Regions from separate parts of the Homo sapiens genome. Here region 2 is linked to region 1. Evidence: fine-mapped expression QTL. Tissue or cell type: testis. Region 1 holds a variant in brackets; the other region holds the start of a gene. All regions are shown on one strand. Distances are between the middles of the regions. Region 1 overlaps LINC00376 (long intergenic non-protein coding RNA 376). Region 2 holds the start of LINC00376 (long intergenic non-protein coding RNA 376).

The links. PIP is the estimated chance that this variant, and not a neighbour inherited with it, causes the effect.
Region 2: it holds the start of LINC00376, and the variant in region 1 is fine-mapped to the expression of LINC00376 in testis (GTEx, PIP 0.96).

Annotation. Positions count from the first base shown.
Region 1 is chr13:63,237,370-63,245,821 of GRCh38, forward strand. All of the region lies in intron 3 of LINC00376 (long intergenic non-protein coding RNA 376), which reads right to left. Among named protein-coding and RNA genes, the nearest start is that of LINC00376, 86 kb to the right of the region's middle. The variant C/G (reference allele first, on the strand shown) is at 4,114.
Region 2 is chr13:63,324,744-63,333,195 of GRCh38, forward strand. LINC00376 (long intergenic non-protein coding RNA 376) reads right to left here and starts at 3,351. Exons shown (of 7, transcript NR_126409.1): 1 at 3,311-3,351; 2 at 2,505-2,612.

The sequences.
Region 1 (8,452 bases):
ATTCTGGACACATCATGAGAACACATTTTATATTGGCTTTACAAAATGTAAAGAGTCAAAAATAAACAAAAATATTAACATCATGTAAAGACATTTTCATTTTCTGTTACTCTACAGAAGTTCTAAAATGTATAAGAATAAGAAGTGAAGGTAAATTTTTAAATTGTAAAATAAAGAGCATTTTGTGTTTTTTCTTTCTCAGATCTTTAAATGAGGATCTTTTAATGAGCCTTTAAATGAGGATCTTGTAATGAGGCCAGGTGTAATCAGTGTTTCTTGTGAGTGGGAGACAGAAGAGTCAAAGCCTGACAAGGAGACGTGATGGCTGACGCAAAGTTTGGAGAGATGCTATTGCTGAGTTTGAAGATAGAGGGATCACAACTCAGGGAATGAAGTTGGCCACTAGAAGCTAAGAAAGACAAGAGCCTCCTAATGTAGTACAGCCCTACCAACACCATGATTTTATCCCCATGAGGCATATTTCAGACGTCTAACCTCCAGAACTATATATTTTTTAAGTGTTGTTTTAAGCCCTGAAGTTGGTGGTAATTTGTTAGAACAGCAATAGAAAATGAGTACAACTCTAAACTAAACAGTCATTTATTTCTAAAGTTCTGTCCTAAGTTAGAAGCCATGAGAAATTCACTTGATAATAGTTCAGCAGAGAAAGTGTAATGCACGTATCTGAAGTCATCAACCCTAAAACAAAGAAACTTTTGAGTGTAGACTTTAGAAAACATGATTCTCGTGGCAGATGGAATGCGAGAATAGAAATTGTCTTTGTACTCATCTTACAGTTTGAGAAATATGTTTCGTAGTATGGTTATTTTTCAGAGATCTTGAGAAAGATACTATCTTTATATCTGTCAGAATGGAAGATACTGGAGAGGCAAGTGTCTACATTCTGTATGTCTGCGAAGCATGATGAGACTTCGCTGTGACAGCTCCCTGAGTAGAGCTCAAATCACGCTGTTGCCACCTGAGCAGTAGGGCAGAGCCTACTCTGCTCTTCTGAATATGAAACAGGTCCAGTTGTTCCACACAACCGATGTTCGTGGTTTCTTTGAATAAACATAGAAATTGATCCTCCCAGTCTTAAAACTTGAAAAAGTTATATTCGTTTCATGTAAGTTTCTTTGTCAGGAAACCAACTATAAGTCCTCCCAGATAGCATCAAGCAGCTGAAACTTACTGGATCACTACATTTAGACAATGAGATGCCAGACCGCTCACTTGTCATAACTGCCTATCTAACTCCTGCTTCCTGTTGACCAATTCCTTTTCCTTTCTTTTCCCTAATTCCTGTTTTCCCACACATGATTACATTTCTTCTCTGCTATATAAACCCCTAATTTTAGTTAGACAAGGAGACAGGTTTGAGGCTGATCTCCCAGCTCCTTGGCTGTAGCACTCAAATAAAGCCTTCTTCCCTGGCAAAACTCATTGTCTTAGTCATTGCTTTTTGTACATCAAGCAGCAGGTCCTAGATCAAACCCTTGGAGTTTTGGTAACAAATACGATAAAAGCAAATGTGAACAGCAGAAATTTAGAGAAAGAAGAACTCGGATGGCATGAAGAGAGTGGTGCTATTTTGGTGGCATTTTGCTTGTAATGGTCCTTGTTTCTTCCAAAGGGCCACTGTAAGAAGCCTTCTGACATTCCCAGATGCAAATTATTAGAAATAATATATAGCCAACTGACAGCCACTTGTGGAACCACATGCTTCATATTTCAGGGAGTTTATTGCTTACTCAAACTACACACCTGCATGGGCATCTGATGGCAACAACATATGTAGAAAATTGGACATCCCTAGTCTTTACTGACACACAAATAATGAGAACCTTATGGATTGGACTTGGAGTACATAGTCCAGGCATTTTCTAATGGAAATAGGGGTATTATAAGGGGAGCTCTTCAAGGAGGCTTGCCAAGGCTGGCAGTTTGATAAGAAAATAAAAGAATTCATGTGTGGACTGAATGCACTACTTCACTGAAGAAACATCTCTGTCAACAACACAACTTTTCAACAAACCAAAGAAAGGGTTTGTACCCTCAAATTCTATTAGAGATATCTATATCACTATAGAATCTGAAGTTTTAAAGGTCAGTGACTAGACATTATAGCAACTGAGCCAGAGTGTAGTGAAATAAGAATAATTTGTAGAAATATTACTGGTAAAATTACACTATGGTAGTGTGGCTTTTATTATTGTTTTCAATGGCTGGAACATAATGGTTTAAAAGATAATTTTAACCAGTTAATTTCAACCAGTTAAAAGTGGGCCAACAGAGTTGTATTCCCAGGTGAGATGGATGGGCAGTATTTCAAAATAATATCTGAAAGTTTGTATTGGTGAGAATCTGGATTATAATATCTAGAATATAGTTATATCCATCACCCAGATTCAAACTACAATGTACTAAACAATACCTTTCTGTTACTATCCCAGACACTGTAAATGTGTAGTTAATGGTTAAAAGTATTTCTATTAGATATGAATAAAAATTGTACTCTAATTTTAACCATTTGGTATGTTAGATATTAATCTATTTATCTAAACTTCCTTCTATAGCTATGCAGTATAAAAAGTTTTATAGTATTATTAGCAAAATTAAATGGAGATGATAAACCACAGGATACGAAAGTATTTGGAAAAACTGAATTGAAGCCTCTAATTGATACCATACCTGGGTAACTGGATTAGTCAGAAAAAGAGGTCAGTGTGACCTGACCTTAGTAAAATTAGGATGCAATACAATGCCTCCATCAATACACGTAAAAATGTACTTGTTAACACACGAGGAAAAATAATATTCCAAATGGTAAAATATGATCAATGGACTTGTAAAGTGAGAAGTTCATAGTTCATTTATTTTTGTTTTTTAGAATAAGTTTTTGCTTTTCCTCACGTGATACAAATCCTCGTGATCATCAACATGGTAAAAAGTGTCCTGCATTCTATAAAATAAAGCAGTAATTGTCTTAATACAGGAATGGTAAACAGTGTCCTGCATAGTATGAAATGATGCAGTTATTGTCTTAAGATGATTAAGGTACATGAGGCAAAGTGATACTGCTCCGGGTCAGAGTGTACACTGGGATGGGATGGAGAAGTGGTAGGCAGGTAAGGTATTTGATGACTTGGCTACAGCTGAGGTGGTTTTTATCTTAACTAGAATTCCTTGTAAATATTGACCAATGAAACTTAGTAATTGAAAGATAATTGAGTGCCTCATGGGCACTTTACTGATTACTGATCTAGGAATGATTTTAAATGATATGCCTGGTCCCTTGAAGTTGTTTATTGTAAATAAACTTGTAACTTATGCACTACATACACCTGACTAGTGAAGTGTATAAGCTGAGAGACACTAAAACCTAGTAGCATCCCTGGGTTAACTCATCCTGCAGAAGTCCTTGTCTTTCAGCATCTGAAAATACTTCCAGGGGTGAGAAAGGGATAACAGAAATATGCATCTGCTGCCACTGGGGTCATCCCCATATTGATGTGAGAGGTTTGCCCATTTTGATTCTCTATTGTTTCCTTTATTATTTTCTATTCCAGTTGGGTGTTGAATGAGACTAAAAGAACAAAGCTACTCATAATTAACCTGATCCTTTCTCACTACTGAATTTTTAAGTCTCTGATATCTGTACCTACATGCTATGTCTTCTGCTTCCTTACTTCATTCATTGTTTCTTTTTTCCTCTCACCTGCCCAAGAGCTTTACTTCTTCCTATTATCAGTATTTCATTTTAATTCCATAATAATCAGTTTAATAATACATTTCAATATCCTCAAGCTAAAATAAATAAAATTTTAACAGTTGTAATTAAAACAACCTACCACCTTCTCTCAACAGGGAAATTTTGGTAGGCTTATGATAACTCAACAATGGGAAAATAAACAACCTTATTAAAAAATGGGCCAAAGACCTCAATAGACACTTTACAAAGAAGATATAAAGATGACAAATAAGCCTGTAAAAGATGCTCATTATCATATGCCATCAGGGAAATGCAAATTAAAACAAGATACTACTACATCCCTATTGGAATAGTTAAAATCCAGAACAATGACAACATAAAATAGTGGCAAGGATGTGGAG[C/G]AAGAGAGTCTCTCTCTTAGACAACTATGGAGACAGTAAAAACATCAGAGGTTACAGGGGGTTATGGGGGAGAAAGAGATGAGTATGCGGAGCACAGAAGATTTCTTTTATAGATTTACAGAATACAAGTGCGTTATGGTTACATGCATATTTTGTGTAGTGGTGAAGTCTGAGCTTTTAGTGTAACCATCACCTGAATAGTGTTTAGTATACCAAACAGGCAATTTCTCATTCTTCACCCCACTCATCACTCCACCCTTTGGAGTGTCCCATGTCTATTATTCCACACAGAGAGGAGATTTTAGGGCAGTGAAACTATTTCATACTATAATGGTAGATGCATGTCATTATACATTCATTAAAACACACAATGTACAACACCAAGAGTGAACCTTAATATAAACTACAGACTCTGGGTTATAATGATGTGTCAATGCAGGCTTATCCATTATAACAAATATACTACTCTGGTGGGGGATGTTGATAATGGGGAGGCTGTGCATTTGAGGATACAGGGAGTGTATGAAAATTCTCTGCACTTTCTGTTCAATTTAGCTGTTAACCTAAAACTACTTTAAAAAAATAAAGTTTACCTAAAAGAAAACATCATGGGATATAATTAAACACCCAAATAGGGTGGCTATTATCTATTTTTTAAAAAGCATTTGTATTGCTAGTAGCAATGTAAAATGATGCAGCCTCTATGGAAAATACTATGGTGGTTTTTCAAAAAAATTAAATATAGAATTACCATATTACCCAGTAATTTTACCTCTGGGTGTAAAAAACAAGGATTAAAAAAATAAATAAAATGTAAAATAAATAAAAAGAATGTAGTTTTCTCCATTATTCATATCTATTTCATTTGATGCCATGATACTTTTGAAATAAAATGTCATTCCTTAAAAAAAGATATGCATATGAATGAATATGAATTTGTATAATGGTTTATTGTCTCCATGACAGCACAAGATTTGTCTGTTTTGTTTATAGCTCAAGTTTCAGAATCCAGAAGAGACAGTTTTATATAATCAGGTTTTAATACTTATTCCTCACACACAAAAAATTCTATTTATAAAGACTGGAATAAAAGCACACCCTTTTTCAATTTCTAAATTTGTTGCTTTTTACAAATATTATTATAATATCTATACATAATTTGAAAAAACCAACAAATTTAGAATTCATAACATAAAATATATTATATCTAAAACTAAATGTATGCCATATTGATAGATGTAAATGTGCCAAAATAATTTATATTTAAAGGCTCTTTTAAAAATAAAACGTATGTACTTTTAAAAAGTTAAGTTAAAACAAACCAGTCAAAAGGCTAAAAACAATCACAAAACATCATAGGCATTGTGAACTTATTTTCAAACAAGTATTAACGCAGGTCAATTAATTAAAATTAATTAAAACAAATATAGCCACAATATAAAAAAAGATATAATCTATAATTAAGAACTACAAGCTGAGTCTTGTTAAACTTTATATATTTGTTAGAACTTAAATATATTTCTAAGTTATAATTTGTGATTGCCAATATAGAAAATATTAACACAGCTTTAAAATATAACCCATGTCAAAATGAGGTGCCTAATAAATTCTTATACTGTGGTTCAATGCAGAATCCATTCATTTTTAATATCTTACGGGTAATACGCCATAAAATTACACATGTAAAGTGATAATCCTAAAATACTAAACTTCGGGTTACTAAATGCAACCATTGCTGTGTTGATTAATTATTAAGAGATACACCTTTTATTAATATTGTGGGCATAGATAAAGACAGAAATCATAGAATATTCTTCAATTCTGTTACCTCCATAAAAATTTTATGGCACCTTGCTGTTTTTGTTTGTTTTTTGAGACCGAGTCTCGCTCTGTCGCCCAGGCTGGAGTGCAGTGGCTTGATCCTGGCCCACTGCAACCTCCGCCTCACATGTTCAAGCGATTCTCCTGCCTCAACCTCCTGAGTAGCTGGGATTATAGGCATGTGTCACCACACCCAGCTAATTTTTTATATTTAGTAGAGAAGGGGTTTCACCATGTTAGCCAGGCTGATCTCGAACTTCCGACCTCTGGTGATCCACCCGCCTCAACCTCCCAAAGTGTTGGGATTACAGGCATGAGCCACCATGCCCGGCCGGTACCTTGCTGTTAAAACACTTCTATAAATAATCTTTTACACGTTGAAAATAATATAGCAGGGAACCAATTTTTTTTAAATTAAAGTGATTATATTGAATCTTGTGTAGATGAATATTTAACACATAATTCAGTTGAAAACAATATCTGCCAATTTTGTGTTAAATGGAATACATTACATTTGAAAAAACAGTCTCATTTAGATTTTACTTGTAACAAATATGTGTAATGAATTTGGGACTTCTCAAATACTTGCAAACAAATTTATATTTATAGGAAATAAATGTATACTTCAGAAAATAAAATATAAAATTTGAACGGAGCAATAATTTTTATAACTAATGTTTAGCAAATCAAATATAATACGCAATGTGAGCTCATGAAAGTGTTATGCCAGGAGATACCACAGACATTGTCATCTGTAAGAGTGTCTGTTTATTCCACAATTCCAGCAGAAACATTGTTGGTCCACTATATAAATGGCATCCACTGTATTGTTCAACAAGGTGTTCTTATTTCACAATTCTACCACAATTACATTTCTAATTTTAACATTTTGTTATGTAGGCATGCCCATTTTTGTAACATAATTGATCTTCCTAATTCCAATCATATTTTTTAAAAATTGGATTTTATTGAGGCAAAAATTATTTGGATTTAATTTCATGTCAAGAATAAGCATAATGAGAAAGTAATTAAATTATTCAATCTCATTTAAAGTAGTTACCTCAAATGGACAAAGCCTTCTGGGCAAAAAATTTATCATCAGTGTAAGGGAAATTAATGAGAAAAAAAGACAAAAAATAATAGAAAAATGGTAAAATATATAATTGTTCTATTCCTAGAAAATAAAAAAAAAAACATGTAACCAACAAACTTTGAATGGTGATTAAAGAAATTAGCAAGGAGAAAAATAAAAAATAAAGTAATTACAACTTTTCCAAACAAAGATATGGCAATATTTTAAAATTTTGAGATTATCATTTATTGTTAAGCCTTACAAATACCATTCTACATTGTGATTTATGTTTTGCTCTTATTTCAATGAACTTTTTGATCATTACATTGATGATTGGTTATTACTGTCCTGGAAATATTTTGATATTTTTATGTTGACCTTGTTTAAAGCAAACCAACTAATTTACTAACTTACTCTATCAATACAATAATATATTATCTTGCTTTTCCCAAATTATTTATGCAATTGGTATCTTTATTTTTTTTTAACAACTCTTATACTTCTTTTTTGGTTTGACTTTAATGAAAATGCCTTGGTGTTTCACTAATAATTTAGGTGCTTTTCATGATTTTCTGATAAAAGTAGTTTGATTTTTATTGCGATAACCCTTAAAGAAGATCTTCTGTTTTCTTTTTAATATTATCATTGCCAACTGCATTTGGGGTTTAGACCATCATAGCCTGTTTTGTTATTTTCAGAACATGTTATGTTTTGTTTTACCTGGTGTATGGAAATATTAAGAGAGAAAAGGAACCTCTCTATTCAATCTGTATTCTTAGTTATTCTTCCTTTGGCCTTCAGCTCTGCTTTCTTTCCATTGACAATTTTCTTTGTGTGGTTTGGATTCTTTCTTTACTTAGAAAATGTTAAATATACTCACATTGCATTACGGTCTGCATCAGACCTTCCTGAAGCAATGGGAAGATTTCCAGTTTACTCTGTTTGAAATAATTGTTTTATAGGATTTAAAAATAAATTTGTATATATCATAAAGCATATTGTTTTAGATTCTTTCCTATTTGTCTAGGATTTATTAAATTATATAAACAGATTTGTAGCCAAATGACACTTATATGAAAGAAACAATATATTGTATCTACCTTCAGTATAACAGACACTTGACTAGTCACTTGATATTTAAAGCTTATACCTCATTTCTACATTTTGAGATAATATTATTTTATTAATTAGGCAATAAGTTTGTACAGCTAAGGGCCAGGCTAGGTTTCAGAACTATATCTAACTAGCATCGACAATTTAGCTATATAACACAAGATTTTGTTGAAGAAGGATGTCATAGACTGAAGATCTCTCTTTATCCTGCATACATGCACTTGAACCTGTGTGTGTGCATGTTAACAGAGACTTTTATGAGAACAAATTGTTGGATTGAGAGGGAAATAATTTGCATTTTAGCAAACAATATTAAATCTGTGTTATTTATGG
Region 2 (8,452 bases), 87 kb after region 1:
TATTAATCAATAGCAATTTCCCAGGACACTAACTGATTCTCTATAAGAAACATTTTCAAAAGAAGGTGGGTACTAAGAAGGAATAAGATTAAGTATTAGTTAGAAGAAACTCTGAATTTCCACATTTATTAACCTAATTCAAAATGGGAGTATATTTGGATAAGATGAAACTTTGTCACTTCAAAATTAGAATCCTTGCATTATGTAATGATGAATATAGCCAGTTACAAAATCATAAACCTAAGTAAAATGGCAGATAACATTAATAAAGAAAATTTATAAAATTTAAATGCAAAGACTACAGAATTACCCCCTAATCTGCAATTTGGCTTCCCATGATTTCAGTTAATTGCAGTACAGTACAATAAGATATTTTGAGAGCAGAGAGAAAGAGACTACATTCACATAACTTTTGTTACAGTATATTTTTATAATTTTATTTTATTATTTAATATTATTGTTTTTAATTTCTTACTGCACCTAATTATAAGTTAAACTTTATCATAGATATGTTTGTATAGGAAAACACATAGCATACATAGGGTTTGCTGCTATCTGTGGTTTCCGGCATCCATTGGGGGTATTGGAAAGTATCCCCTGAGGATTACGATGAAGTACTAACCCTTAAAAAAAAACTGAGAGAGTGACCCCACCTGAAATAACACATAGGACATAAATTTAAAGGGTGAATAAGAGGAAATTTTTAATAAATTTTTAAAATTTAATAACATTTATCTTTTTCCAAGTCTCAGTTACGGTCACACTAGTTTTTTCTGAGTTACTACATTTGAAAAGTCACTATCATGCATCCAGGTCCACAAGTTAAAAATGGAGAAACACCTCTACTTCTCACATTTATTTTACAATAGAACAGCATAACATGGTAATCTGCTTTGTAAGCATCCCTAAAATCCATTTAATTATCTTTATTACCACCTCCATAAGCTAGTTTAAGCTACCAACTTCTATCTCCCAGACTACTGCAATAGATGATTAACTGTGCATACACAAGACCAACTCCTCTAATCTATTATTTAGAGAGTAACCCAGAAAAATCTTTGCAAAATGCAAATCTGATTATTTTTCTTCTATGCTTAATTTCTTTCAATAGCCTCACTTTTATCTTGTGGCAAATAAGGGCACCACTTTAAATGACCTCTGTCTTTCAGCTTAATGTCTCTCTCTCTCTCTCTCTCTCTCTCTCTCTCTCTATTTGTTCCTGTCACACTGGCCTTCTTCCTTTTTTTAAGATAAAATTCATCCTCAAATATTCTAGTACATATATTAATATCAATAGCTATTAAAATGTAATTGAAAATAAATCTAAATAAAAATGGTTAAAAAGTTAAAACCTTCAATCAAAGTTTCAAATAATCAATATATTTGTGAATAAATTCTCAAGCCAACTAGGTTAAAATTTAAAAATAAACATAATTTAAAATAAGATAGAAATCTGAAAAGTTGCAATATTTAAGTTGGCTGTGCTATAAAAAGAGGTTAATTTTCCTACATTGCTAGAAAAACTGCTATTGATAGTTACTTTATTTTTTTTGGAGGAAAATTGCTCAGTATCCAAAATCTACAGTGACATACAACTTGGTTCAGCCAGCATTTCATAGAAATCATAGTCTATATCCATAAAAATATACTTATGTATTAATATGTTGATTATAATATCTCAACGTAGAAATGAATTAAATGTCCATTTAAAGGTAAATGAAGATAATGAAGTATAATGGTAATCAAATGCACCAAAACCCAGCATATTTATAGTTTATTATGGCATAAATAGTGGATGGAACAGAAAAGAAATTTGTCATATTATCTTCTCTAACTACATTTCTTACATTGCATCCTCTGACTCCTCTTGACGGTGATAATGAACTGTTAAACAAACAGCTATATAACTACAAGCCACCTAACCAAACAAATCTACAGCCACCTGGAAATGCTTCTCTTTTATGAATGCCTCTTCCAACTTTTTAATTTTTCTTTAGGAATATATTAGTGTTTTCAGAGTGTATACACAGCTGACATGTTAAGCACCTTACATTTCATTCTAATTGTTGGCCAAATTTACTGGCAATTAAGTAGTATGTATGTTTTGATTCCTCTGAGTTTTTAAAATAATTGAACTTATGTGTAATAAAGAAGGAGTGGGTTAGTGAAGTCATTGTTAATTGCATCAAAAAAAATCTGTCGGGAAAGTTAATCAGAACTTAAAACTCATTTCCTATGGGACTGCACTTTCAATGTAATCATATCCTCGAAGAGGTTATATAGTGTGAAATTGTAGGAAAATGTGAGAAACTAATGCAGAGATTTTCATCACTTTTGAAAAACAGCCAATTCCACAATATTTTTAGTTAGATAAGAAATTTTGGTAAAATTAGACATAGTATCACATATATAATATTGTATCACCATTAATATAAAGTTAAAAATGATACTAAGCAGACAGATTTAGGTATCACCTCTATCTCTAGAGATTTATATCTACTTACTCTGTGTCTTTCAGTGCTTCTCACTTCTATGACCTCTTCATCTCAATCAAAACTCCTTTACCTACTCGCAGAATAATTATGCTGCCCTAGAAAATCCTGATGGCCATTCTGTCAAAATACGTTCATAATATTACTACCTCTCATCGCTTCTCTTTATAGCACCTTCGTACATGCCACTCTTATCTACTGTTTTATTCCAATCGCTTCTTAACTGGTTTTCCTAGTTATATCCTGTCCACTTTTGATCATTGATCATTGTCAAGAGCAGCTATATTCCAATTTAAACATAAGGCAAGTTAGAATATGATGTCGGTTGTGTTCAAAACACAGTTAACTCAAAGAAAAAAAAAGCTAAAGTCATGTAATGCCTAAAGGACTCTAACTGAATAGAACATCAGTTACGACTCTGACATCATTGTGTTATTTTACTCTTTTCACTTACTTCACTATAGCCACATTGATTTCAAGATACTAATGTGTGGTGTTTTAGTGATGAACTAATATCTATATACAGCTGCCAAAGATTGAAAGTGAAAATGTGACTTCAATTTATTTTGTGGCAAGGTGTTGAGGCAATGTTGAAGGACATGCAAATTATGTGCTGAGCAGTACTTTACTACAAGATTGTCACTAATATTTTGCATTTTCAATGAGCTCTACCCTGACCTCCCTATTTAAAATTACATCTCCTGAGATTCTTTCTTTTCATCATTCCTAATTTATCCTCCCACCACCCATTTATGCTTATCAACTTCTAATATACAATCTGTGACCAATCGTATTTTCCAAAGATGGCACAATCTCACTTTTACATTTTAGCAGTCTGACATTGGTGGAGTCTAATTGTTCTCCTCTTGAATCTAAACTGGCATTCAAGTGACTGCTTGAACTATAGAATGCAGGAGAAGCCATATTCTGAGAATTCTATGACTATGTCATAAGATGTCTTGTAGCCTCCACACAATTCTCTTAGAATTCTTGTTCTTGGAACTCTCCCTTTTAAAATGCAAGCACCATGCTATGTGATGCTCAAGTCACATGGAATGGTTAAATATATTAGGTTAGTGCAAAAGTAACTGTCGTTCTTGCCATTGCTTTTAATATTTGCACCAATCCAAGGTTCAGCTGAGCTCTCAAATGACATCCAACATTTACTGCCAGACACTGATAGGTTTTGAATCTGTGACTCCACCCAAATTTTATGTTGAATTGTAGTCCTCAGTGTTGGAGGTGGGGCCTGGTGGGAGGTGATTGAATCATGGGGGCCGAGTTCTCAAGAATGGTTTAGTGACATACCCTCAGTGCTATACTCATGATAGTGAGTGAGTTATCATGATACCTGGTTGTTTTTAAGTGTGTAGCACTTCTCTCCTCTCTCTCTTTCTCCTGCTCCCACCATGTAAGACATTCCTGCTTCCCCTATCCCTTCTGCCACAATTGAAAATTTCCTGAGGCCTTCCCGGAAATCAAGCAGATGCCAGCATTATGTTTCCTATACAGCCTGCAGAATTGTGAGCCAATTAATCCTCCTTTCTTTATAAATTACCCAGTCTCAGGCATTTCTTTATAGCAATGCAAGAATGGACTAATACACACATAAATGAACTCTCTTGGATATCCAGCCTAATTAAGCTTTCAAATGTCTACTTCAGACTCAGCAAACAACAAAATGCAGCAGTGAGAGAAATTCCAAGTAAGAACTGCTCTTCAGAGCCTAGACATTCCACAGATACCTAAAAGAGAAAAATATATTCTGGCTTCTTGTTTGTTTTAAGACATAAATGGTCTTTTTATTTTTAACATAGCAAAAGATAATTATTATTTGTCATGTTTATTGTATTTTCTAGCCAAATAATATATAACCTTCATTAGGCCAGGACACTTACCCTTCTGCTTGTTCAAAACTGTATTTCCAAATATGATATAGTGTTTGACACCTGTTACATACTCAAGAATTATTTATTGGTTGATGATTGTAATAGTTAATTTTATGTGTCAAACTGATGGGCTCACAAGATGCACAGACATTTAGTTAAATGTTATTTCTGGGTGTGTCTGTGAGGGTGTTTCCAGAGGAGGTAGTATTTGAATTAGACTGAGTACAGTACATCGTACTCACTTATGTGGGTAGACACCATCCAATACATTGAATTCCTGAATAGAGCAAAAAGATAGGGGAAGGGGGAATTCTCCCTTTCTCTGCTTGACAACATGAACTGGAACATTGATCTTTTCCTGTGCTAGGCATACTTAGTTCTCAGGTCTTCAGACCTGGACTGGAATTTACATCATTAGCCCTTTACACTACACCTCCAGCTTTCCTGGATCTTCATCTTGCAGAAGGTACATCATGGGACTTTTCAGCTTTCATAATTACATAAGCAAATACCTTAAAATAAATACCTTATAATAAATAAATAAATATATGCTCAAGTGATTGTGGAAGGTTAGATATCCCATTCTCTACCATCTACAAGCTGGTATATAGTATATAGTGACATAAGTAAATAAATACATACATATTTTATACATCTATGTATACATACATATATATATATGTTCAGACACACCTCTATGTTATATGTTTGTGTGTGTGTATGCTATAGGTTCTATTTCTCTAGAGAACACTGACTAGCACAATGGATGAACTTAATATATGACACTGTATTTTAGAACTATAGCCTATATCTCTAGTTAATTTTTTATATATCCTGTACCTGTAGTTAATCAATTTTGTTCGACTTCCCCAATTTTCTTTCAAACTCACTCAATCCTTTGTCGAAGTTCTCATGTCCTAAATTATTTTTATTTTTATTTTTTTCAATAAGAACACTTAACATAAGATCTACCATCTTAAAAACATACACACAATACAGTATTGTTAATTTCCTTTTCAATTGAAATTAGATATATTATAACACATTGCTCTAAGTAAGACTCTTTTACGCATACCTAGTTTTCTTCCTCTTTGCCTCATCCTACTTACTAGAAAATCCTAACTCTGATGAAAACTGGCTTTTTGAGATCTTTATGTCTATACTGAAGCAGCGACACAGAGCTGAAGAGAAGTGCATAACTTTGTTTACTGATCTTACTTTAAATTTATGACTGAAGGATTCAAGTGAAATCTCAGCATTCACCAGCATCCTATTACTGCTTTTAGTCAATTGTCCTCCTACTCTAGCAATACATTAATTTACAAATTCTCTTATTGCCAATCTATAACACTGACTCTTCTTTTCTCAACTGTTGACTTTGTTTTTATTTCTCTAAGAAAATGGAAGCACCGTAAAGACAATTCACTCATCCTCTGCCACCAAATTTACAAAACTACTTTCTTTTGAACACATATAAGATCAACCTTTGTTATTATGATGAACAATGTTTATATTTCAATTTAAGCCAAACCACTCTCATTAGCATGCTGGATTCCTTTCATTTTTATTTATTTATTTATTTAGAATTTATCTAACTATTGTCTCAAAATATAATATCTTTTCTTTTTTTTTTTTTTTTTTTTTAGAGAAGGGTCTCTCAGTCATTTAGGCAGGAGTGCAGTGGTGTGATTATAGCTCAATACAGCCTCAAACTCTTGGGCTCAAATAATTCACCTACCTCATTTTTTTTCTTATCAGTTATTGGGGTACAGGTGGTATTTGGTTACATGAGTAAGTTCTTTAGTGGTGATTTGTGAGATTTTGGTGCACCCATCACCTGAGCAGTGTACACTGCACCCTGTTTGTAGTATTTTATCCCTGGCCCCCTTCTCACCCTTCCCACCCTTCCCCTCAAGTCCCCAGAGTCCATTGTATCATTCTTATGCCTTTTTGTCCTCAGAGCTTAGCTCCCACATATCAGTGAGAACATACAGTGTTTGGTTTTCCATTCCTGAGTTACTTCACTTAGAATAATAGTTTCCAATTTCATCCAGGTTGTTGCAAATGCCGTTAATTCATTCCTTTTTATGGCTGAGCAGTATTGAATATATATATATATATATATATATATGTATGTATCTCACAGATTCTCTATCCACTCATTGATCAGTCATTGATTGATGGGCATTTGGGTTGGTTACACAATTTTTCAACTGCAAATTGTGCTGCTATAAACAAGCATGTGCAAATTTCTTTAATAACTTATTTTCCTTTGTATAGATACACAGTAGTGAGATTGCTGAATCAAATGGTAGTTCTACTTTTAGTTCTTTAAGGAATCCCCACACTGTTTTCCATAGTGGCTGTACTAGTTTACATTCCCACCAGCAGTGTAGAAGTGTTCCCTGATCACTGCATCCAAGCCAGCATCTACTGTTTTTGATTTTTTGATTGTGGCTGTTCTTCCAGGAGTAAGGTGGTATCATATTGTGGTTTTGATTTGCATTTCCCTGATCATTAGTGATGTTGAGCACTTTTCATATGTTTGTTGGCCATTTGTATATCTTCTTTTCAGAATTGTCCAGTCATGTCCTTAGCCTACTTTTTAATGGGATTGTTTGCTTTTTTCTTACTGATTTGTTTGAGTTCATTGTAGATTTTTGATATTAGTCCTTTTTCAGATGTACAGATTATGAAGACCCACTCTGTGTGTTGTCTGTTTACTCTACTGACTGTTTCTTTTGCTATGCAAAAGCTCTTTAGTTTAATTAAGTCCTAACTATGTATATTTGTTTTTATTTCATTTGCTTTTGGGTTCTTGTTCATGAAATCCTTGCCTAAGCCAATGTCTAGAAGGATTTTTCTGATATTATCTTCTATAATTTTTACAGTTTCAGGTCTTAGATTTAAGTCCTTAATCAATCTTGAGCTAATTTTTGTTTAAGGTGAGAGATGAGGATACAGTTTCATTCTCCTACCTGTGGCTAGCCAATTATCCCAGCACCATTTGCTGAAAAAAGTTGTCCTTTTCCCATTTTATGTTTTAGTTTGCTTTGTCCAAGGTCAGTTGGTCATAAGTATTTGGGTTTATTTCTGGGTTCTTTATTCTGTCCCATTGGTCTGTGTGCCCATTTTTATACCAGTACCATGTTGTTTTGGTGACTATGGCCTTATAGTATAGTTTGAAATCAGGTAGTGTTATGCCTCCAGATTTGTTCTTTTTGCTTAGTCTTGCTTTGGCTATGCAGGCTTTATTTTGGTTCCATATGAATTTTAGGGTTTTTTTTTTCTAATTCTGTGAAGAATGATGGTGGTATTTTGATGGGTATCGCATTAAATTTCTAGAACGCTTTTGGCAGTATGGTCATTTTCCCAATGTTGATTCTACCCATCCGTGACCATGGGATGTGTTTCCATTTGTTTGTGTCATCTATGATTTCTTTCAGCAGCATTTTGTAGTTTTCCTTGTAGTGGTCTTTAGCCTCCTTGGTTAGGTATATTCCTAAGCATTTTATTTATTTATTTATTTTTGCAGCTATTGTAAACAGGGTTGAGTTCTTGATTTGATTCTCTGCTTGGTTGCTGTTTGTATATAGAAGAGCTACTGAATTGGGTACATTTATCTTGTATCCAGAAACTTTGCTGAATTCTTTCATCAGTTCTAGGAACTTTCTGGAGGAGCCTTTGGATTTTTTGAGGTAAGCAATCATATTATCAGCAAACAGTGACAGTTTGACTTTCTCTTTACTGATTTGAATGTCCTTTATTTCTTTCTCTTGTCTGCTTGCTCTGGCTAGGACATCCAGTAGTATGTTGAAGAGGAGCAGTGAGAGTGGGCCTCCTTCTCTTGTTCCAGTTCTCAGAGGAAAAGCCTTCAACTTTTCTCCATTCAGTATTATGTTGACTGTGGGTTTGTCATAGGTGACTTTTATTACATTGAGGTGTGTCCCTAGTATGTCAATTTTGCTGAGAGTTTTAATCATAAAGGGATGCTGGATTTTGTTGTATGTCTTTTCTGCACCTATTGAGGTGATCATGTGATTTTTGTTTTTATTCTGTTTATGTGGTATA